3 linked regions of the Homo sapiens genome follow. The protein of the gene in region 1 interacts with the protein of each later gene in a biochemical or structural test. Each region holds a gene or a part of one and is shown in the gene's direction. Other genes may lie near its edges. The genes, in order: ANXA1, S100A11 and UBE3A.

Region 1 (7,870 bases):
GACTTGCTGTATTTTTTGTGTTCTGATTACATAAGAATTTTTGAATTATTATATTAGAAATTATATGGTCCTGGTATATCTTAGAAAGTATATAATCAAATGAAGTTCCTTTTTTTCATAATAGACTCTAGTTTTTAGAGAAATTTTAGGTTTACAGAAAAATTGAGCAGAAAGTACAGAGAATTCTCATATACTCAATTTCCCGCTGCTCTTAGTTTCCCCTGTTACTAATATTTTGGATTGATGTGGTCCATTTGTTATATTGGTGAACCAATATTGATACATTATTATTAGCTAATTGCCATAGTTTACATTAGGGCCTACTCTTCATGTTATACATTTCTATGTGTTTTGCCAAATCCATAATGTATGCATACACCATTACAGTATCATACAGAATAGTTTCACTTCCCTAAAAATCTCTTTTTTTTTTTTTTTTTTTTGAGACATAGTCTCGCTCTGTTGCCTAGGCTGGAATACAATGGGGCAATCTTGGCTCACTTTAACCTCTGCTTCCCAGGTTCAAGTGATTCTCCTGCCTCAGCCTTCTGAGTAGCTGGGACCACAGGCGTGCACCACCACGCCCAGCTAATTTTTTTTTGTATTTTAGTAGATGGGGTTTCATCATGTTGGTCAGGCTGGTCTTGAACTCCTGACCTGATGATCCGCCGCCTCGGCCTCCCAAAGTGCTGGGATTACAGGTGTGAGCCACCATGCCCAGCCCACTTCCCTAAAAGTCTCTTATTTATTACTCCTCCCTGCCACCAACTCCTGGCAACCATTGATCTTTTTACTTTCTCTATAGTTTGCCTTCTCCAGAATGCATCTCATTGGAATGAAACAGACATAGCCTTTTCATACTGTCTTCCTTTACTTAGCGATACTCATTTATGATTCCTTCATTTCTTTTCCTGGTTTAAAAGCATTTCTTTTTATCATTGAGTAATAGTCCATTACATAAACGTACTATAGTCCATGTATTCACTTACCTCTTGAAAAATATCTCAGCTGCTTCCAATTTCTGGTAATTATGAATAAACTGCTATAAGCATACATGTGCAGGTTTTTGTGTAAACATGTTTCCTAACTCATTTGGGTAAATATCTAGGAGCACAATTGCTGGATTGCATTGTAAGACTCTGTTTATCTTTGTAAGAAACTGCCAGACTATTTTAAAACAGCTGGAACCTAGAAAGCAGAGTTTGACCTTTTGACCTTAACACATATCTTCATTTTCCTTCTGCAAAACTTCTTGAAAATTATTGAAGTAAAATTTGTTATTATAGCGAATGTGACAAGGTCTTATTCTCTTACTTTCGAATAATATAGAGAGGGATATGGATACTATACTCAGGGATTAAACAAAATAACTTGTGCAATACAAAATTACTAATCCTAGCATGATCCTGATGTTGGAAGTATACTAGTTGAATCACCAAGTCATTCGCTGACTTTTCCTAAGTCACACAGTAATAGATACTAAGCCACCACCAAATTTGAGTTTTTATCTTCTCTAAGATTTTCCACCCACAAAAGGAAATATAGAGAGGCAGGGAGGTAAGATCTTTTTCCCTAAGTGAAGTCCAACAAAGGTACCTCCCTTTGGCTCTAGCTACCCACATGACTACTTCATTAACCTGAAAGAGTAAAATTTGAAAAAAAATTCTGTCTTTAATTCATGTGAATAACTGAGGAATAATAATAATAATAATCTCAATAACTCAGTGTGTGTGTGATAATTATTTGCCATGTTTAGAGGCAAAGGGAAAACATTTAGAATGTTAGCCCTCAAAATGCTTTGACCTGGGGACACATGAGAAACACACACTAAAATAATGATTTTTGTTGGCTGTGGATAGGGGGTATGAGGAAGCTGTGGGGAGATTTTGGAATATCTGTGAAATGCTGTTCTTGATCATTCAGAATATACTCTTTCTTCCATATAACAAGTAATGCTTAGATAGAGTTAAATGTAAAGGATGAGGGGACAGCTTACTAAGATCAGATATTTTGCAAGAGTCTTATGCACAATGAGATGTATGTGAGAGACTCCATATTTCCTCTCCTTGTTTTGTTTTGTTTCCTCTTCACTATCAGATTCTAAACCAAATGAGTGAAAATAAACATGCTGTGAAAAACGTAACATATAGAGATTGATTTTAACTGTCTTTTTTCTTTCCTTCTCTTTCTTTATTTTCTCTGTTTGTAAAGTAAGTGGAGCCGATGAATCATCATCTTCTAGAAACAGCAAGAGTGGTGAGTCATTTCTCTGGAGTATGTGGCATTTCACCCACAGAAAGCATTTAACCCATGATTATCCCCTCACTGTTAATGATAACATATTTTACTTGTTCTTTTATTTCCATAAATCTACTCGACATTATTATTATGCGGAGAAAAAGATTCTGACAGATTATTCACAGCAATATACCTACATGATTAGTGGCTTTCTTTTTGTGTTATGTTTGGGAGTTTCACTTGCCTTTAGTGTTACAGCTGGAAGTTAATTTTGGAAAAACATTCTTTTCACTTTTTTTTTCTTAATTCTGCTACAATTATCATATTTATTGTTGCTATTTTAGGTTTGCCTATGTATTACAAATCCAAACATATAAAATAATTCCATTCAGTTTATGGCACTGGTAATAGCAGCAACAAAGCAAAATGAGACTATACATGTTTTCTAGGTTGTTATATTTTATAAAAAGTAAGTGGAATTTTTTCTTCATTTCACAAGAGCATCACTGTGCAGGAATGTTCCAATAGTTCCATTACCAGAGTTAGGAATACAAACGCAAATTAAAGAAAAAAAGAAAACCAGATTTTGTATAATCATCTTATTCCTTCTCACCTGATGACATAAATATGGTATTAGAAAGTTAGTCTACATCTGTCAAGATCAATTTGCAATAATATCAATTAACTTAACTTGTTAGCAGGTAACTAATTAATTTTCAACTTACACATATGATAGTAAAAACATATATTGACATTTTCTTAAATATTTAGATTAGATGATCATCCTACTTCAGGATATGTTGACTTCATTGATATTGGCATCGAGCACTTAGAATGTATTATAAAATACTGCCAATCTTTAGAAAGTATTTTCATTAACTTCCTAAACTTCATGTTTTTTATGTGAAATATCTATGAGGAAAAGAGGAAAAAGAACAAACCACTAAATGCAGCATAAATTGAGCCATAATGCTGTGAGATTTTACACCTGTGCACTTTAATGGAAACATCATATAATACTTTGTAGGGTTTAAAGAAGAATGAAAATGAACCACTATGGAAGTTACCAGAACCAATTTTCCTCCATTGGGTGGGAAATTTCTTATGGAATGTGTTCTGTAATAGTTGCTGCTCCATTAATCCTTTCATTTTATAGGTCTAGTTCCTTGTTTTGGTGTTCAACTAGTCTACAATGTCAAAGATGTGTATCAAAATGTATATATAACTGATCTATATTACAGTTTATATATATAGTTCTATGTAACTGACTCTATTTAAAAGAATTAATGTAGATAGGCCTTCTGATGTCAATGCTTTTATTGAATGTCATAATGATCAAATTTTTGGCATTACCTTTGTTCAAAATTTTGAGCCAATCTGGAACTTTATTACTTCTATATTTCTTATTTATAACAACAAGCTATATCTAGGAACAAAAGTCGTTTATTTTTTAAGGCAAGAAAAATATAAATAGAAAATTATTCGGCACTGTGTAATGTTAAAATTTACAAATATATGTTATTTCTCCATTGTCACAAGAATTCTAGTGGGTAGACAACTTAGATAATGCTCCTATATACAAAAGTAAAAACAGCTAGGCATGGTGGCTCACGCCTGTGATTCCAACTCTTAGGGAGACAGAGGCAGGAGGATAGCCTGAGCCCAGGAGTTTGAGACCTGCCTGGGCAATATAACGAGACCCCATTCTCCACAAAAAGCGGGGGAAAAAGACAACAAAACAAAAGTAAAAACAGGTTCAGAAAAATTAAGTATGTCCCTAAAGTCACAGAATAATAAGTGATGGAGGTGGAATTCAAATGTAATATTTTGTTTGTTGGTTTGTTTAGTTTTGAAGGTAACATACTTTTTAGTCTACAACCTATTTAACTACAAAAGTGTGCCAATCACTGGTATTAGGATTGGGGCAGATGTATACTCTGAAAATAAAAGTGCAAAATAAATATCCCATCTGGAAATAAAAGTGCAAAATAAAGAGGGAGGAAAAATCAGCCCTTCCATTTCTTTTCCTTTGTAATGCCAGTTGAATTGGTTTAGTGAGTAGTTTTGCAAGACTTGTTTCACTTTGTTTTTGGACATAGCTGAGCCATGTACTTCAAACAGAAGGCAGCCAATTACTAACTTCTGGTTGCTAGGTGTGGCTTCCTTTAAAATCCTATAAAATCAGAAGCCCAAGTCTCCACTGCCAGTGTGAAATCTTCAGAGAAGAATTTCTCTTTAGTTCTTTGCAAGAAGGTAGAGATAAAGGTAAGTCTTGGTTTTCCTTTTAGTTAGTTTTGGTTGTTTTGAAAACTTTTCTCATCACTATGTTAAATGTTACTGCTTCTACAGGATTTATGGTTAGTTGCATTTAACATGATAAGTCATTCATAAATCTTTCTGTAGAATTACATTGGATATTTATATTTTAGGAATCACAAATTACAATATTTTTGTTCTACTTAGTTAACAAATACAAGTAAAAATAAGATAAGTTTGCTTAATACTGGCTCATTGTACTCTTGGTAAGTTACCATGAGAAAGAAGGGAAGAATGTGCTTTCCCTCTGGTAGCCTTAAAAGAATGTGTTTTTCCTTTCCTTCCCCTTGAAATATTTCTTCCCAAGAGCTGTGTGTTTTACAGAGAAATCGTGATGGGGGCTGCTTTTTGGGGGCAAGAACAAAAGTGATAGGAGTGGGCTGCAGGGAACTGTTTCAAAATAGTAGGACTTTCATAATTTATTTTCTTCTTTTGTAAGGAAAACAAGATAGATTCAGACCTCAAAGTGCTAATCATGCTCTTTGTAATAAACATTTAAAAATATATGTTATATTTGCTTATGCTATTTAAAATAAGAAGGTCCGCTTATTACTTTTTTCATTTAAAGAGGGTGTGGCCACATTCCTTTTCTTGTAGGCTCTGTGTCATATACAGTCTTTTCAAGTGCTGGCTGGAAAACCTAAAAAGAAGGGAAATACTTTCTGGGTAGTGTCAGATACATTATCCTAGGGGAATGTCAGTGAGGCCCTCCAACAGCTATTCCACTTGATTGTTGCATGAGCTAATGGCCATAAAACTCCTTAGAAAAGCACAAAGCAAAACTAAAGAAGAGTATTTACTAGTGTTGGATATATTTGTAAAAGTGAGATTACAAATCATGTATCTGGCTATTTTTTTCTTAAACATGTTCCTTCAAGAATTTTTCTGTTCGTTCATTTTAAATATTTATTAAATGTTCTGATTTCTTATGTTCACTGCTAGCTAATTAACAAGGATGGAATTTTTCTTGCCTTGGTTATATCTAAAAGATTGTAAAAACTTTGAGAAAGCAATGTTGCCCTCTTTCCACAGGAGTATTTTGGTAGCTGTAAGAGAATGCACATTGCAAATGACTCAAATGTGGTAAAATGTTGGTTTCATAATTCTGAAATGGCCTCTTCCCCAAAAGTGACAGTAACACCCTAGCTCCAGGCTCAACCACATCCAGCACATAGCCAACATTTAACAGATGTTGACAAAATAGTTAATAATAATATTATTAAGGAACCAGCCAGAGTTTCATGCTTATTAAATACTTTTTCAACCAGAAGGTCTGCAAAGGTTGATTTCTGAATATGACGTTAGCTCTCTCTAGACCTATTAATTTACGACATTTCAAATCAGAGGTAAACCAGCAGACCTATTATTTTTCAATGATAAACTATAAACAGTTTTTTGAAGTCAACTATTTCCTTTTCCTTTAAAATTGGACAGAATTTCATCAGGAAGCTCAGAACAATCCAATTTATATAATGCCTTCCTTCATTATGCTAATTTTCTTCATCTTCATCTACTTGAAGTAATATTTAAGATTGGCACTTCAGAGCTGTAAATGGATCTTAGATGATAATTACTTCAACATTCTTATTTTATAAACGAAGACCCTCTGGAGAAGCTAAATGTTTTTCTTGAGGTCAGATCGCCAGATAATCAAGAACCAGTATACTTCAATTTGTATTTTATATCCTATAGTTGTGGGTAGAAAATGTTCATTAAATTAGTGTAGATATGTTTTTTAAAATATTAGCAATGATACATGATATTCATTCAATAATACTTATTAACATCCTAAATTCCAGGCATTTTGCTAGGGATTGGAAGTACATACATAATGAATATTATTATTTGTATGTTAGCACGGGCCTCATGGCCTGCTCCTGGGGAATATAAACAAGCCAATGGAAAGTGATAATACAGAAAGGTGGGGCTGGTGTAGGGGTGAAGTCAGGATGCTTTGGGAGAGCATGGAAGGTCACCGAATCCAGTGCTGAGGAACTAATGAAGGGTTTCTGAAGAACGTGATGAGATCAATGCTGATGAGTCACTTAGAAGTAGCAATTAGTTAGGCAAAGGGAAGTGAATGTGGAGGAGGAACAAGCATTCCAGGCAAGAAGAACACCCTATCGAAAAGCCTGGAAGCAAAACATTAGTGAGGCTACCTTTCATAAATTGCTTTCTGTAAGTCATGCCATTGTGTAGTCTTAATTGCTTTCTCTCACCAGGGAAGGTGTGGGAAGGACTTGTGAAATACATATTCGAGGAAAAACTATGCACAAGGCCGTGCATTTAAAAATAAACTCCCTAAGGCTGGGGTGAAACCTGCTACGGTCTGCGCAAGTTGACTGTTAATGAATTTGATTCTCAGGTGTGAGTGATTAAAAGAACACTGATCATGTCATTTTCTTTTTGGTCACTAATTCCCTCCCTCCCTTCTCTTTCTTTTCTTTTTTCTTTTCTTTTCTTTTTCTTTCTTTCTTCCCGACAGAGTCTTGTTATGTCGCCCAGGATGGAGTGTAGTGGTACAATCTCGGCTCACTGCAGCCTCCGCCTCTTCCTGGGTTCAAGTGATTCTCCTGCCTCAGCCTTCTGAGTAGATGGGACTACAGGTGCACACCACCATGCCTGGCTGATTTTTGTACTTTTGGTAGAGACGGGGTTTCGCCATGCTGGCCAGGCTGGTCTTGAACTCCTGGCCTCAAGTAATCTGCCCACCTTGGCCTCCTAAATTGCTGGGATTGCAGGTGTGAGCCACCATGCACAGCCAAAATATATAACACTTTGGAATCAAAAGGGATGGATTTATGTCTCCATTCTTGCCACTACTAGCAGGAAGACTGCTTGAAAATAGCACTCAGTTTTCCCAGATAGAAACTGAGGATAATGATTAAAGGCTATTATTCCAAGCAAGGGTTAGTCATTGCTGTTACTATCATTGCAAAACTCTGATAGTTCTAGATTGTAACCAGGAAGATACAATCAACCACAAAACTCAGCTTCCTCTGTCACAAATTCTAGATAGAGGTAGCCTTTCATGAGGCTGAGAGATGGAAAAATGAAGCGGGGGGACTCTCTTAGGACACATAAATATGCAAAAAAATTGCTACGCTTTAGAAAGCTATACATTCAAATCATAGATAAGCTGACATTAGTAGGCAGTGCATGTTCACAAAAAGACCATTAATTAGAAGAAATGTGAAATATTGTTAATTTCCTTATAGATTTGCCTATGTATAAATGGCCAATTTCACCGTCAATGAGCTCATGCTAAGTACTGAAATAAACTTAGTTTTAGAGCTTATCTTTGGTTAGTTGAAAT
Region 2 (7,715 bases), on another chromosome or scaffold:
ATCGAACCATCATCTTCCCTTAAGCCCCCGAAAATGTTATTCAGTTTATGTTCTCTATCTTGGGGATGGTACTGGTACCACAGGGCTATCAAGCTAGAGTCCTAGGATTCACGCTTGATGCCTCCTTCCTCTAATGCTCCACAGCTGAACAGTGGTGAAGTTAGGTTGGTTTTGCCTTCTCAGTATTTGGTAATTCCCTCTCCCCATCTCCATGGCCATCTCACCCTGGTTATTGCAACAATATTCTAATATTCTTTGCCTCTAGTCTTTCTTCTTTCTAGAACATGTTTTCTACAGTTCCAAAAGTGAAGGGGATCACGTCACTGTCCTGCTTAAAAATCTTCAATGTTCCTTGATACATAACCCTAAGGTTACAATCCAAACTTCCAAGTATATCTCCTAATGAGCTGACCCTTGTCTCTCCCATCTCACATCCCACAGCTTCTGCCTCACATTTACCATCACCCCATACCCTAAGTCTGGTTCTACTGAACCACCTGCAAGTACTGAGAACACGAACAATGTTTCATCCCGAACCTTAATTCTGCACAAGCCACTATGTAAAACTTCCTCTGAAGACACTGCTGTAAGTCCTAAGCATTAAACATGAATTAACTCTTAATCCTCACAACAACTACTATTCTCTCCACTTTACAGATGAGGAAACTGAGACACAGAGCCAACAAATAACTTGCTAGATTTCATATAGCTAATACGTTGTGACACTGGGATTTGAACCCCAGTCTTGTGGCAGAGCCTGTGGCTGTAAATACTGTGCTATCTTGCCTGAGTTCACCTTTTTTCACTACCATGTTCATCCACCTGGTGAATTCTTATTTATATTTCAATACCCACCTCAAGCAGCACTTTTCCAGGATACTTTCCCTCCTCTCCCAGAGTTAACCTCTCATTTCTTTCCTGGCATTTGTCATTGTGTCTTGGTCACACCCCTGTTATTGCATTTGTCACTGTACTGTGTCCATTTCAGAATCAACCCAATGCTACACAGAGATCAGACTGCACATAAGAATTACCTTGAGCCATGGAAGTTCCTACATTTATTTCCTGATAAGCCCTTTTACCCATCTGTATATTATTTTTGTCTCTTGCTGTCAGTTTACCAGCTCTCACTCATCCTCAGCTCCTTGCTGGCTCCAGCCCTTCAGTTTGATTCATTGTTTGCCTGCTTTGACAAATCTACCTTGCCTGCTACCTTTCCTGAACTCTCCCTCCTTTGACTGATAACCTAGAAATGAACCCCTTTCAGCGTGACCCTGGGGAGCAGCTGTCAAGCAGGCAGCCCTAACTGGGTGGGGCTGATCCCCCAACCTGGCTCTGAACAAGTCATACTTATTTGGTTTAGCTTTTTCCTTTGGTTTCATTCAAGCTACTTCATGGGGCTGAAGAGTTATTGAAAGAATAAATGTCATAGAGAAAGTAAGAAAAACTAACAACTAGGTTTAGGAAGAACAAAAACGCTAATGAAGTCAGACTGCAGGCTCTTCACTCCCAGTGGTTCACCATTTTCACAATTCAGCGAACACCCAAGTAGCCTTTTCTTTAATTTACAGTTAGCAATTGGCTTACATTCCCCTCTGTCTATTTCTTCCAAATTTCATAGCTTCCACTTACTCATGATGTCTTCTCCATAAGTTTTATTTGCCATGACTTCATGGTTCTGTCTATGCAAATGTTCAGCTTCAGCTCTTCTAAATGCCTAATTTTCTATGTGCTTCTAATTTCAGTTTCCCAAAAACAAGAAGCTTTTTGGCCCTAGTTCATCTTTCCATGTTATGTCATGAAACATCCACTACCAGCCATCCTATAGATTGGCAGTGCTGGTGTCCAGACTAACTTCAACCCAGTCCACTCTAACAGGGTCACAGTGTGTCAAATCATGCAAAACTTGGCCACCTGGGCTGCCCCTTGAGCACAGGTTCTAAGTGAGGCATTTTCTCTTAAAAAGAACTATAGTGGCCGGGCGCAGTGGCTCTCACCTGTAATCCCAGCACTTTGGGAGGCTGAGGAGGGCAGATCACGAGGTCAGGAGTTCCAGACCAGCATAACCAACATGGTGAAACCCCGTCTCTACTAAAAATACACAAAAAATTAGCAGGGTGTGGTGGCGCACACCTGTAATTCCAGCTACTCAGGAGGCTGAGGCAGGAGAATCGCTTTAACCCGGGAGGCGGAGGTTGCAGTGAGCTGAGATCACCCCGTTGCACTCCAGCCGCCTAGGCAACAAGAGTGAAACAACGTCTCAAAAAAGAAAAAAAAGAAAAGAACTGTGGTGTGTAAGGCCTCATGATTGAGTTATGGAGTAATTTAGACAAATGATTCCTTAATATGTTGGGATCATAAATTTTTCTGAGAATCAGATGAAAGATGTGGACTCTTCGCCAGAAAAATTTCTCTTATGCAAAAAATTTACATGTAACTTTAAGGTATTAAGGAACCCCAGCAGCCGTTCATGTAACACCCCCCACCACCAAAGGTTTGAAGTCTATTACCTGGCACTTGATAAGAACTGTGAGTCAAAAAGGCATTTAGACTCAGTGGCTCCAATGCTTTCAAGCAGGGAAAATGGTAGAGTGATAGTACCCTTAGCAGAGAAGACAGAAACAGGTTTGGGGAAAACTAGTTATTCCTGAATTATTGAGTCTGAAGTGCAGGTGGGACTCTCAAGTGGATTCATAAACAAGTAACTGAAAATGTGGGTCTGGAGTAGCTGAGAACTGAGATGGAGATTTGTCTCACGTGCTCAGGGCACCTGTGAGAGCAGGTGCAGGGAAGCAGTTCACACAATGCCTATAGCCCATTATCTTTCATTTGCGTCTACTCTGCAGTTTTTGGAGACCTTTCTAAGCCCTCACTTTACTTGACAGTCCTAACAATCTTATGAAACAGGAAAGGCCTATCTCAAGACCTATTACAAATAAGGAAGTGGAAGCTCAAAGGAGTGACAAGTCTGGTCAAAAGTATTGCAATGAAGTAACAGACACAAGACTGGAACCCAAGTCTTCTGATTCTTAATACAACTCCTAATTTCATTGCAAACTGCACACAGATAAATGCCTTACTAGCACGGATCAATTTTTAAGTGCAGTAGTTTGGTTTTCGGATTTTGTCTTTGTGGCTGTCCTCAGTTTACAGAAAAGTTTGAGAGAGAGGGGTGGCAATTGTCCCTTGACAATAATCCCCAGTAATCCCGTGGCAATTGATTTGGCAATACTCACCACTGTTTACTGTTAAATATCTTCCCTGTGGAGCAATAGAGAGCCCCAACTCCTAGGAACTTGTCTACAATTCTGACCCGCACTCTGTCCTAACTAACACTCTTGGTTTTGTTTTTTGTTTGTTTGTTTTTGAGATGGAGTCTTGCTCTGTCGCCCAGGCTAGAGTGCAGTGGCGCGATCTCGGCTCACTGCAAGCTCTGCCTCCGGGGTTCACGCCATTCTCCTGCCTCAGCCTCCCGAGTAGCTGGAACTACAGGCGCCCGCCACCACGTCCGGCTAATTTTTTGTATTTTTAGTAGAGACGGGGTTTTGCCGCGTTAGCCAGGATGGTCCCGATCTCCTGACCTCGTGATCCACCCGCCTCGGCCTCCCAAAGTGCTGGGATTACAGGAGTGAGCCGCTGCGCCCGGCCTGTTTTTGTTTGTTTTTTGAGACATTGTTCCGCTCTTGTTGCCCAGGCGGCTGGAGTGCAACGGCGCGATCTCAGCTCGCTGCAAACTCCACCTCCCGGGTTCAATCGATATTTCTGCCTCAGCCTCCCAAGTAGTTGGTATTACAGGCGTGTGCCACCACGCCAGGCTAATTTTGTATTTTTAGTAGAGACAGGGGTTTCACCATGTTAGTCAGGCTGATCTCAAACTCCTGACCTCATGTGATCTACCCGCCTCGGCCTCCCAAAGTGCTGGGATTACAGGCCTGAGCCACCGCGCCCGGCCCACTGCTGTTTCCAAAAGAGACCTTTTTTGCCTATCTAACCTAAATGCCCAGAATGAGCTCATACATGGGAAAGACCCACGGACATGGACAGACTTCCCGAAGACTACTGTGCAAAACTTATAATTCTAAAAAGTCAAAAATCTTCAGGAATCACAGGACGGGGTGGAGGGGGCCGGGGGGAAAGAGGAGGGAAAAGAGGGAAAGGAGGGAGAGTGAGACTGCTTAAATCGCTGGAGAGGACGGTGGGTTTATTTGAGTCTTAAAGCTCAGTTCTGTGGTTAGCGCCGGCCGCGGTCCCAGGCCCAGCCCGGGAGGCGGGGAGGGGCGGGGCAGGCGCGGAAGCTGTCTGAGTAAGGCTTGGGCAAGGCTGGGCCGGGAAGGGCGTGGGTTGAGGAGAGGCTCCAGACCCGCACGCCGCGCGCACAGAGCTCTCAGCGCCGCTCCCAGCCACAGCCTCCCGCGCCTCGCTCAGCTCCAACATGGTAAGCCTCACTTTTCTTCTTCTTCTTCTTACATGAAAAGAAAAAGAAAAGAAAAAAAACCCACATACTTCCCAGCAGACTTTATCTTTGACTTATGTGTGGACGTGGCAGGAAACAGCAGGAAAAATCAGCCTCGTGGGAGGGAACTGGGGAAGAAGGGATGGAAGGATGAAGCCCTAAAATCATCCTTGGGGTGGCCGCCTAGGGTAGCAGCGGAGGTTCTTTAGCCTTCCCAGTCACGACAAGGCCCAGGGCTGGGGAAGAGGAAGTGCTGGCCGCTCACCGCGCGGGGGGGGGACCCGTCGTGGGTCACTGCCTCCAGCCCCTCGCCCGCGGTCTCCCGGGAGCCCAGAGACGCCTAGGAGCAAGTTTAAGGCAGGGGGCTGGAAAGCTGCGAGGGGTCACTAGTTATTTCTGTACACCAGAAAAGGGACATTTTAGAACTTGGTCGTCTAGCCCCAGGGAAAATCAAAGTTTCAGTAAGCACCCGGCAGACGGCCAAGACCCAACGGGACTGAAACTTTAGCCCGTCGCCGCCCGCAGCGCCGCGGCCAAGAATGTGGGAGGAACCCGGTCCCAGCTGAGCCCTCTCCTCCTTCCTCTTCCTTTTACCCCACCATCTATTTAGGCACTCACTCCGTAACTTATTTTTCTCTTCTTATCTCCTTTCATCTCCCAGTTGAACTCATATTTTCCATAATTCCACCTCCAAAATCTCTTTCTTTACCTCTCCTTAGTGGAGAGTCAGCAAACTGGCCCGCGGGCCAAGTCGGGTTTTCTGTTCTGCCCACAAGCTAAGAATAAAGTTTACATTTGTAAATGATTGAAAGAAATCAAAAGAAGAAAAATACTTTCTGACATGTGAAAATTATGTGGAAATCAAACTTCAGCGTCCATAAATGAAGTATTGGAACAGAGCCACGCCCATTCCCTTCCATACTGTCTGGGGTTGCAGTCCTGCTACAGCAGGGACAGAAAGCTCCGGAGGGTGTTGGTTAAGAATGAGAAGACAATAGTTGAGGTTTTTAAAATTGCTACGTCTTTTTCATCGTATTTTTTTCTTTCCTCAAATGTTGAGCGCTTAGCATGCATTTTTAAAAATTATTTCACAGTATCCGTTTATCATAATGTTTGCTCCTTGCTATCGCCATCCCCACCAAGTAAGACTCCAAGAGTGCCATGAGGTGTGGAGAGCGCCGGTTCTCCTCTCCTTCAGCCACTGCGCCACCCTGGGCAGAGCTTTCCGGTTTCTGGGCGTCCTCAGGACCCATCTCCAAAGTGCCCTGGAGCTCTACAAATTATGCCGTTCCATTTTAGTAATTTGATAATTGTGTCTCTTTCTTTCACTTTGGAGAATTACCTCTGGGAGGAAATGCAAAGAGGTTTTAATTTTCTCCTTGTGGCTGATAGCAACAGCAACAGTTTTCAAAAGAAAATAATCTCTAAATTACACCAAGACTGATGTTAAGGAGAGAAAAATGTGAAGCAGAAAGGCACTGTGAAACTGGAAAAGCAAAACTGTCTGCATTCTGGAAGGAAAAGGGGCAGGGGGAGAATCTGTAGTTCCAGAGAAAGGTGACAAAGCCCATGCTCCTCAGCCTGGTGTGGCCTCCCAGCCAGTCTCCTTCCTGTCATCTGATACCTTAGTAAGACAGGGAGATTTTAGGCCTGATATGAAGGGCATGTTGTAACAGAACAAACACATCTGTTTCTAGGCTGTGGTATTTTGTTTCTCCCCTAAAGGCCCCTGAACCTACCAACACTTTTCTTAATGAAAAGTTCAATTTAGAGCAAAACAAAAACAATCATCCTCCAACAATGTGATTCTTGGGAAAAAGTCCACCTCTCTTAGGGTTCAGGGGTTCTAACGCTGTAAGATGCAATGGGAGGCAAGACTCAGCTAGGATCTCTGCAGCATAAAGGCTGTACAGGAAGGAGGAATCAATCTGCAGCTGTGTAGCTAAGGGCTCAGATCAGTTCTTAGCACGTGTTAATTACGGAGTGAGAAAGCCTCTAGCTCTGGCCTCCAGGAAGTCCATCCTAAGAACAAACGAAAGGCTAAATGCTAAGTTGCAAATGTCACCATCCAAACATAAATCATTGTTAACGCTAGTAGGTAAAGTCTCAGAGGAAGGGTGTGGCCAGGCCGGTTTCCCAGAAAGTCTGTAATTGCGGCTTCTACCCACCAGAGGGAGGCCAACAGCTCCTCACTTTTGGGACCCTAAGTCCCCTTGGGGAACCGGATGACTGGGCCCTATAGAATTTCCTTGAAAAATTCTGCTGTGAGGAAAGAGCCCAGTACAGGATTTAAATCTCTTACATTGTAGATGCTGTGTAAGCAGCAACCTGAGAGCTTCCTGGTTTGGAGTGACCTCCAGAGAAGCTCCACCTTCTCTGTCACTATTTCCCACCAGGAAGTGGAAGCCTGCAAGGCTAAGGACTGCAGAAAGGGACTGGGAGGCCCAGATTCCAGGGCTGGCTCTGCCATATCCATTCCCTTCTCCTGTCCGTTTCCTCACATCTAAGATTAATGGTTCCTAACTCTTAAATATGAAAGCCATTTTCAAACATCTAAAAAGTTCTATCTCCCACTGCATACACAATGATAGCTATGCTTTTAGTTTTCTCTAAGGAAATGTGTGAGTCCCAGGAATTCGGTATTGCTTTAAAAAGAACTGACATTTCATTAATCACAAAAGCCTCCATACACTCTTGGAAAATAAGAAATTATTAACCTATAGACAATGTTTGGTGTGCATATGGATTTGTGGATATAGAGTTACACATGTATTTATCCACACATTTTAAAAATATGAGTAAACCTTGTCACCGTCACTCTCATCTAGGCAGTCTACTGCTTTTAAACGTGCCAGCAATGCTCCACATTTACCTTCCATATATTTCACCTGGAATAAACATGTGGCGAGGGGTAGGACGGAAGGTCACAGAGTGTGACTTTTTGTGGTTGTCTTGAACCCCTCAGCCCCTTGAAAAAATGACTCAGTCTTTTAGGAAACTGCTTTGACCTGAAATAAGAGTCCCTGGAGTTTTCTCCAGTATCCAGCCTTGACATCTTCCCTTGTCTGAGCCCTGCAATTTTTTTTCTCCAAAGGCAAAAATCTCCAGCCCTACAGAGACTGAGCGGTGCATCGAGTCCCTGATTGCTGTCTTCCAGAAGTATGCTGGAAAGGATGGTTATAACTACACTCTCTCCAAGACAGAGTTCCTAAGCTTCATGAATACAGAACTAGCTGCCTTCACAAAGGTACTGGTCCCTGTC
Region 3 (7,688 bases), on another chromosome or scaffold:
ATCACTTGAAGATGTTCCGAAAGCATGACATATCAACAAAGGACATGTGAGTCTAGAATGGTGATCCCTAGGACAGGCCATATTACTGCATGCAAAGCAAGTCTTTGTTAACCTTATGACTTGCTCAGGAAGCAAAGTGTTTCATGTCCTAATAGGATAGTAGTATTTTCTGTTATGTTACATTTTAGGAAATTAGGAGTTTTGCATTGTCTTGTAAGAAGGTATTTTAAAAATTTTCAATGAAAATAATGAGAAATAGGTTTCCAGTGGTTTTATGCTTTTGGGGAAGAGGTTACTGATGTTTAGCAAAAGATGCTTATATATTCTTAATAGAACAAACCTGAGAATTAGTTCTTAAAGAGTTAAGGCCCATAAAAGAAACTGTAAGTGTTGGTACTCTTGTAGCTGGGCCACAGATCAGATCCTTAGTATGATAAAATTTGGTATTTTTGTGCTTCAATTTTTGGAGACCATTCAATGATCACTTACATTTTATATTGTCTTTCATTGTGAAACATATATTATAGCAGAGGTGGGAGTCATTAAAAATTCTACATGTTGTACACTACATGTATAAGGGTATATTTGGCGCAATGGAGGTAGGATTGTCTGTGTGCCTCTAAAATTAACCTCTCAAGTAGTTAATCTGATGATGACAAGTATGTCACTTTATTGATAAAAGGGAGAATTAAGACTATTCTCAGTATTATGTTGGTCAGTACACAAAATATATCATTTGTTTTTACCTGTGAAATGAAATATCTTTCATCCTATTAGCCAGAAGGGAGAAAGCCTTGGCCTGAAAATAACACTTATCTCAAAAAGTTGGGAAATGTGGTCCAACTCTGTGCCCAGGAAAAGAGGAAATAGATTTTGATGACTACATAGTCTCTGCACTGCTTGCCAGCTCATAAGTTTACTTCTTTGCACTGTTTGTTTTCATTGCTCAAAAACTATTTTCTGTCACTCTATGAGATTTAGTCTAACCTGATTCCTGGCTGTGGAAAGCAGTTTCTACTTAAGAGCCGATGAGAAATGGTATATTCTTCTCAATCACTCACAGAATGACTACCCTGGAACAAACTAGGAAGACCCAAAATGAACCAGTTTGATTTTAATACATACATAGATGCTGAAGGAGCCTTTTTTTAAGACCTTGCCTTCTTAGTCTTTGGAGAACAGAGTACTGAAACAAGAAAACTCACAGATTAGTAGTATTTCTGTGTGTTCTACAGTGAGGTTTTAAGAGCTGTATTATGATTAATCAGTACATGACATATTGGTTCATATTTATAATTAAAGCTATACATTAATAGATATCTTGATTATAAAGAAAGTTTAAACTCATGATCTTATTAAGAGTTATACATTGTTGAAAGAATGTAAAAGCATGGGTGAGGTCATTGGTATAGGTAGGTAGTTCATTGAAAAAAATAGGTAAGCATTAAATTTTGTTTGCTGAATCTAAGTATTAGATACTTTAAGAGTTGTATATCATAAATGATATTGAGCCTAGAATGTTTGGCTGTTTTACTTTTAGAACTTTTTGCAACAGAGTAAACATACATATTATGAAAATAAATGTTCTCTTTTTTCCTCTGATTTTCTAGATGTGACTTACTTAACAGAAGAGAAGGTATATGAAATTCTTGAATTATGTAGAGAAAGAGAGGATTATTCCCCTTTAATCCGTGTTATTGGAAGAGTTTTTTCTAGTGCTGAGGCATTGGTACAGAGCTTCCGGAAAGTTAAACAACACACCAAGGAAGAACTGAAATCTCTTCAAGCAAAAGATGAAGACAAAGATGAAGATGAAAAGGAAAAAGCTGCATGTTCTGCTGCTGCTATGGAAGAAGACTCAGAAGCATCTTCCTCAAGGATAGGTGATAGCTCACAGGGAGACAACAATTTGCAAAAATTAGGCCCTGATGATGTGTCTGTGGATATTGATGCCATTAGAAGGGTCTACACCAGATTGCTCTCTAATGAAAAAATTGAAACTGCCTTTCTCAATGCACTTGTATATTTGTCACCTAACGTGGAATGTGACTTGACGTATCACAATGTATACTCTCGAGATCCTAATTATCTGAATTTGTTCATTATCGTAATGGAGAATAGAAATCTCCACAGTCCTGAATATCTGGAAATGGCTTTGCCATTATTTTGCAAAGCGATGAGCAAGCTACCCCTTGCAGCCCAAGGAAAACTGATCAGACTGTGGTCTAAATACAATGCAGACCAGATTCGGAGAATGATGGAGACATTTCAGCAACTTATTACTTATAAAGTCATAAGCAATGAATTTAACAGTCGAAATCTAGTGAATGATGATGATGCCATTGTTGCTGCTTCGAAGTGCTTGAAAATGGTTTACTATGCAAATGTAGTGGGAGGGGAAGTGGACACAAATCACAATGAAGAAGATGATGAAGAGCCCATCCCTGAGTCCAGCGAGCTGACACTTCAGGAACTTTTGGGAGAAGAAAGAAGAAACAAGAAAGGTCCTCGAGTGGACCCCCTGGAAACTGAACTTGGTGTTAAAACCCTGGATTGTCGAAAACCACTTATCCCTTTTGAAGAGTTTATTAATGAACCACTGAATGAGGTTCTAGAAATGGATAAAGATTATACTTTTTTCAAAGTAGAAACAGAGAACAAATTCTCTTTTATGACATGTCCCTTTATATTGAATGCTGTCACAAAGAATTTGGGATTATATTATGACAATAGAATTCGCATGTACAGTGAACGAAGAATCACTGTTCTCTACAGCTTAGTTCAAGGACAGCAGTTGAATCCATATTTGAGACTCAAAGTTAGACGTGACCATATCATAGATGATGCACTTGTCCGGGTAAGTTGGGCTGCTAGATTAAAAACCTAATAATGGGGATATCATGATACAGTTCAGTGAATTCATTTTAAAAGTGACTGAAAAAAATGATACCATATAGCATAGGAACACATGGACATTTCTGATCTTATATAAGTATTATACTTTTGTTGTTCCTGTGCAAGTTTATAGATGTGTTCTACAAAGTATCGGTTGTATTATATAATGGTCATGCTATCTTTGAAAAAGAATGGGTTTTCTAAATCTTGAAAACTAAATCCAAAGTTTCTTTCATTCAGAAGAGAATAGAGTGTTGGACAAAGACCAGAACAAGAGAAATGTGGAGATACCCAATAATAAGTGTGGATGTGCAGTCTTGAACTGGGAGTAATGGTACAGTAAAACCATACCATAAAATTATAGGTAGTGTCCAAAAAATTCCATCGTGTAAAATTCAGAGTTGCATTATTGTGGACTTGATGAAGTGACCATGGCAGATCAGTGCCTGTTGCCAGTAAGAGTTGAGTCCTGCTGGGCCACTTAGAATATCCCTGTGTGGACGGCACTGCCTGGCTGTGGTAGTTTCTTCCCACTTAAAAATTCATAGAGACAACTCTGGGTCTTGGAACTTCTGGAAAACAGCAGCTATTCCAAAAATCTGGGGATTAGTGGTGCCTGTAACATCAAGTCCAGGGAGATTGAGCAGGGAAATACTGGAAACTCAGGTACTCATCCTAACTTCCTGGTTTTCCAGATGGGGTTGCCATTTGTTCCTTTTCTTTCCTCCACAAGATAATTTTAGTGTATCTGTTTAAGAATATAAGAGTGGCCAGAAGACAGAAAGCAGTCGTCAGTCACATTTCACCAAAATTTACATTTGTCTCAGGTGCATTATCGCAGAGCTTTATTGTATTTCTAGTATTAGCTATCCCTGTCATTGCTGCTACTTTTTTATCATCTTCAAGTAAAATTTAATGTCAACAAAAATTAAGGTAGTTAATAATACTATAGTATACTAGTAAAGTTGTCTGACACAGACAACTAGGAAATGTGATTTTTACTTTAAAATGTATTTTAGTTTTAGAATGTCTAAATTTTAGTTTTAGAATTGTCTAAATTCGAGAATTCATAAAGCTGTAGCCCGGTGGAAAAAGTTATTTGACATCTCAGAAATTAAAAATTGCAGAGATTTTGTGTGTTTTTTTTTTTTTTGTTACTGGTTTGTTTTTTTTTTTTAATGTCAGATATGTTTATAGTGTTGGAGAAAGATTCTGCATTATTTAAGCAACTCAGGTGGTTTTCTAGCAGAGACAAAAGGGGGCTTTAACTGCCTGAAGTCATTATTATTGCTTGCTTTCTGGTACCCTTTTTATTTCACTTACATAGTTTTGAGACACATGAATAATTAATACACTTAATGACTGATCATAAGGCAGCCAGCACCTTACTTTACATAGTTTAGCAGAATGATAGGGTATTTTATAAGAATGTGAGTGATGTTTTATGAAAGGTATGTTGAGGTCTGTCTATGACTATCCATTGTTGGAGCAGAACTGCAAATGCCAAAGCTACATACTTTATGTTTGGCTTCTTGAGGTGAGATCCCTTCAGCTGTCTTCATCAAAAGCTATGTCTAGCCTTTAAAAGGCAATGAAATTACACTGTAAGAATCATTCCAGGGTTCAAAAAATTGTCTACCTTCCTTATCTGTCTTTCGCTCAGAAGTCTACTCAGTCTTATTTTCCTCAGTCCCCCATTTTTTTCTCTAGTAAAGCAAGACTAAAAACAAAAGTTTAAGTACTTGGTATATACTTTATTCTATATTTTAAATTCTATTCTAGAATTTTAAGGAAACAACTGCTTTTAAAGCCTTAGGTGTTAGTGTAAAATTAACTGTGAGCTCTTTAATTATGGTAACTTGTTTTTAGCAAGTTCTGCTTAATTATATCAAAATTAGATAATATAGTGTGGCCTATCATAAATCAGGATTCACTAGATAGTATATGTACTTGAATATTGCCAGCCCACAAAAGCAGTTCACTTCAGAAATCATGTGTGTTAGGCAGTTTAATAAACTGTGAAAATAGAAAGAGATGATGCTTACAGAGAAGCTTCCTTAGGGGCTCTGAATGCTCACACTAAGCAGATTTTACTCTTAACTTTCTTTCTCCCTTGCTTTTTCTTCCTTTTCTTTTTTTTAAAAAAATAACAGAATGTGAAAAGACTAGAAAAACCAGCATCGAAATAGGTCTTATAAGTAAAATTGATAACCTGTGTAATTTTTTGAAGTAAGTATTCACAGCAGGTGATGATTATGATAAAGCCACATATTTTAGTAACACATAGTAGAAGTTCTATAATAGAAAGTGGTTTAAGATTATTCTCTCATATGAAAGCTCAAAAGTGATGAATTTTTCAAGATCTTATTTCCCAAGGATCTCTGCTTTTTAAGCCTCATTCTTATATATCACAGTGAACAAACTAGTGGCCACTTTTTTATGACTTGCTAATTTTGGAATTGTATAGCAGGGTTGGGTGGAAAAGAAGAAATGAGAAACTTTGTGGTAAGCTTAATATTGATAAATAAAATTATGGGATCCTAGGCTTTAAGAGCTAAAAGAAACCTTAGAGTTATCCACTCCTTAGTTTAGAAATCAAGCCCAGAAAATAGTGACTTCATATATGAGACTCTTGTATGTTTTCTGTTGAGGAGTGGTAACTTGAATTAATAATTGTGGATTTTTTTAAAAAAGAAAAATATATTCATTGCTTTTATATATTGTGAAATTCAAACCAGACTAGCAGCTTTTTTCCTGAGGTTTTTAGAGAAATTGTCTTTGATGACAAGAGAAGAATTCATGTTGATAGTATTTTCACTAATCTCTGATTGTAGGAAACACTATCATTTTATTACTGCTAAGACAGAAAAATACCAGCAATTCATTGTAAGATGCTATCATTTGTATGGTGTAATCTGATTTCAGAGATAATGTGAAAAAAGTGAATTTTAGAATCAATAGAATATAAGTTGTCTCTTCACAAATACCTTAGAACTGCTTAAGAACACCCCCACCCTACCCGTTTAACTTACTGCCATAGTTCCCCTAGGACTTATTTTCAGTATTTTTTCGTTATTGTTCCTTAGAAAACAGTACAGTGATAAACATGAGCTTAGACTTCACCTTTCATTTGAATGACATTCCTAATGTGATGAGGTTTTTACAAATATGTAAAACCATATTTACAAATTTACATTTTTAATATAAATATGTAATTTAATTTAATATGTAAATTAATTTAATTTAAATATGTAAATATTTACATATTTACAAATATGCAAATATTTACATATTTACAAATATGTAAATATTTACATATTTACAAATATGTAAATATTTACATATTTACAAATATGTAAATATACCCATTTGTGTGTTCTTTTACAAGTAGATAATTTCTCATTTTTCTTAGATGAAGCACTTCCAATGATAGTATGTATTAAGATTTTTTAAATTACTTCTTAAAGGAGAAGATAGAGGTTATAAGTTTATGGAAGAATATAGTATTGCCATCATGAGGTCCCTCAAACTGCCTTCACATCTGAATGGGAAAATTGTTTAAAAAAAATAAATAAATAAATAAATAAAATCCAGGGCCCTAACCTCTAGAGGTTTAGATTAGAAGCTGTATTGTAGAGCCTATGAATCTGAACTTCTGGTAATACTCCACAAATATTTTGATAAAGCCAGACTCCAATATTTGGGAAGATGGCCTTTGGTTCAGCTCAGGTGGGGGTGTGTGTGCATGTGTGTTTATGTGTGTATGTGTGCATATATAGAGAGAAAGAGAAAGGCCATTTTGATATACAAGTATGTTTATGTGTTTTGGAAACTCAGATTTTTAAGAGGATCATGGGGACAGCAAGCTTGGAATAGAGGATGATGATGATGTGAAACTTGGTTCCAATTAGTCAGGGAGTTCTAGCATTTCACATAAATATCTAAAAACCAAAAGGAATGGCTGAGATGTGGAATTGAATAGGGAAGTTCAAAAATAGGAATTAGCACAGATAAAGGTGATTGGCACAGATAAAAAGCCCCACTACCAGGAGGTTCTGCAAAATCCCCTCTAAAAGTCACTGGCCCTTTTTATCTGGTTTCTAATAGCCTAGTCTAACCCAGCTTCCAGCATTTTCAGCTCCCAGCTTCCAGCATTGGTGAACACTCTTACTAGTGAAACATGAACGTAATTCTTTTATTTATTCATTGACTCACAGAGCTTTAAAAATGAGATTATTCTGTGCTGCACTAGGTATGTTTAATTTTGTCTTACACATACACTATATTGTGGTTAACATGTAATTTCCATTGTTCTTTCTTGTGATTTATTCTAATTGAAATCAAAAATGAAACCAAGAAATATGCTTGGTTTATGCCCTCAAAGTAATTTCTCAGAAACTGAATGAGAGAATGAAGCCTATATATACATAGATCCTCAGCATTATATAATAATTTAAGACAATGAAACATCAAACTTAGTATTACATGTGAGGAAAATGAAATCTAAAAGAGATTCCAGCCTACATAAATTAATGGCAGAATTGGAAATAGAAGTCAGGATTCCAGGTCTCATGGACGAACGTGATTATGTGATTTGGTGTTACCCAAACATTTAAACTACATTTGAGATATAACAGACTTTTCTTCATGTGTTTATCGTGAACATGAAAAAATTAATTTGGATAATCTGGAAATCTCAAGCAATAGTTTAAGCCTCAAGTTGACTGAAGTAGTTGAAGCTAGCCTTTCTTTCTTTTTCCTCTTTTTTTTTTTTTTTTTTTAGACGGAGTCTT

What was found.
Region 2: the proteins of ANXA1 (region 1) and S100A11 form a complex in vitro, tested with the Homo sapiens proteins (2 studies listed by BioGRID).
Region 3: the proteins of ANXA1 (region 1) and UBE3A form a complex in vitro, tested with the Homo sapiens proteins (one study listed by BioGRID).

What each region holds. Positions count from the first base shown.
Region 1 is NC_000009.12:73,147,422-73,155,291, forward strand, and holds the start of ANXA1 (annexin A1), read left to right. Parts: upstream 1-4,443; 5' UTR 4,444-4,503; exon of another isoform or gene 4,504-6,902; coding exon of another isoform or gene 6,903-6,921; intron 6,922-7,870. UniProt on the Homo sapiens protein: Plays important roles in the innate immune response as effector of glucocorticoid-mediated responses and regulator of the inflammatory process. Has anti-inflammatory activity.
Region 2 is NC_000001.11:152,033,633-152,041,347, reverse strand, and holds the start of S100A11 (protein S100-A11), read left to right. Parts: upstream 1-4,343; 5' UTR 4,344-4,432; coding exon 4,433-4,435; intron 4,436-7,547; coding exon 7,548-7,700; intron 7,701-7,715. UniProt on the Homo sapiens protein: Facilitates the differentiation and the cornification of keratinocytes.
Region 3 is NC_000015.10:25,365,735-25,373,422, reverse strand, and holds part of UBE3A (ubiquitin-protein ligase E3A), read left to right. Parts: intron 1-1,610; coding exon 1,611-2,857; intron 2,858-7,688. UniProt on the Homo sapiens protein: E3 ubiquitin-protein ligase which accepts ubiquitin from an E2 ubiquitin-conjugating enzyme in the form of a thioester and transfers it to its substrates.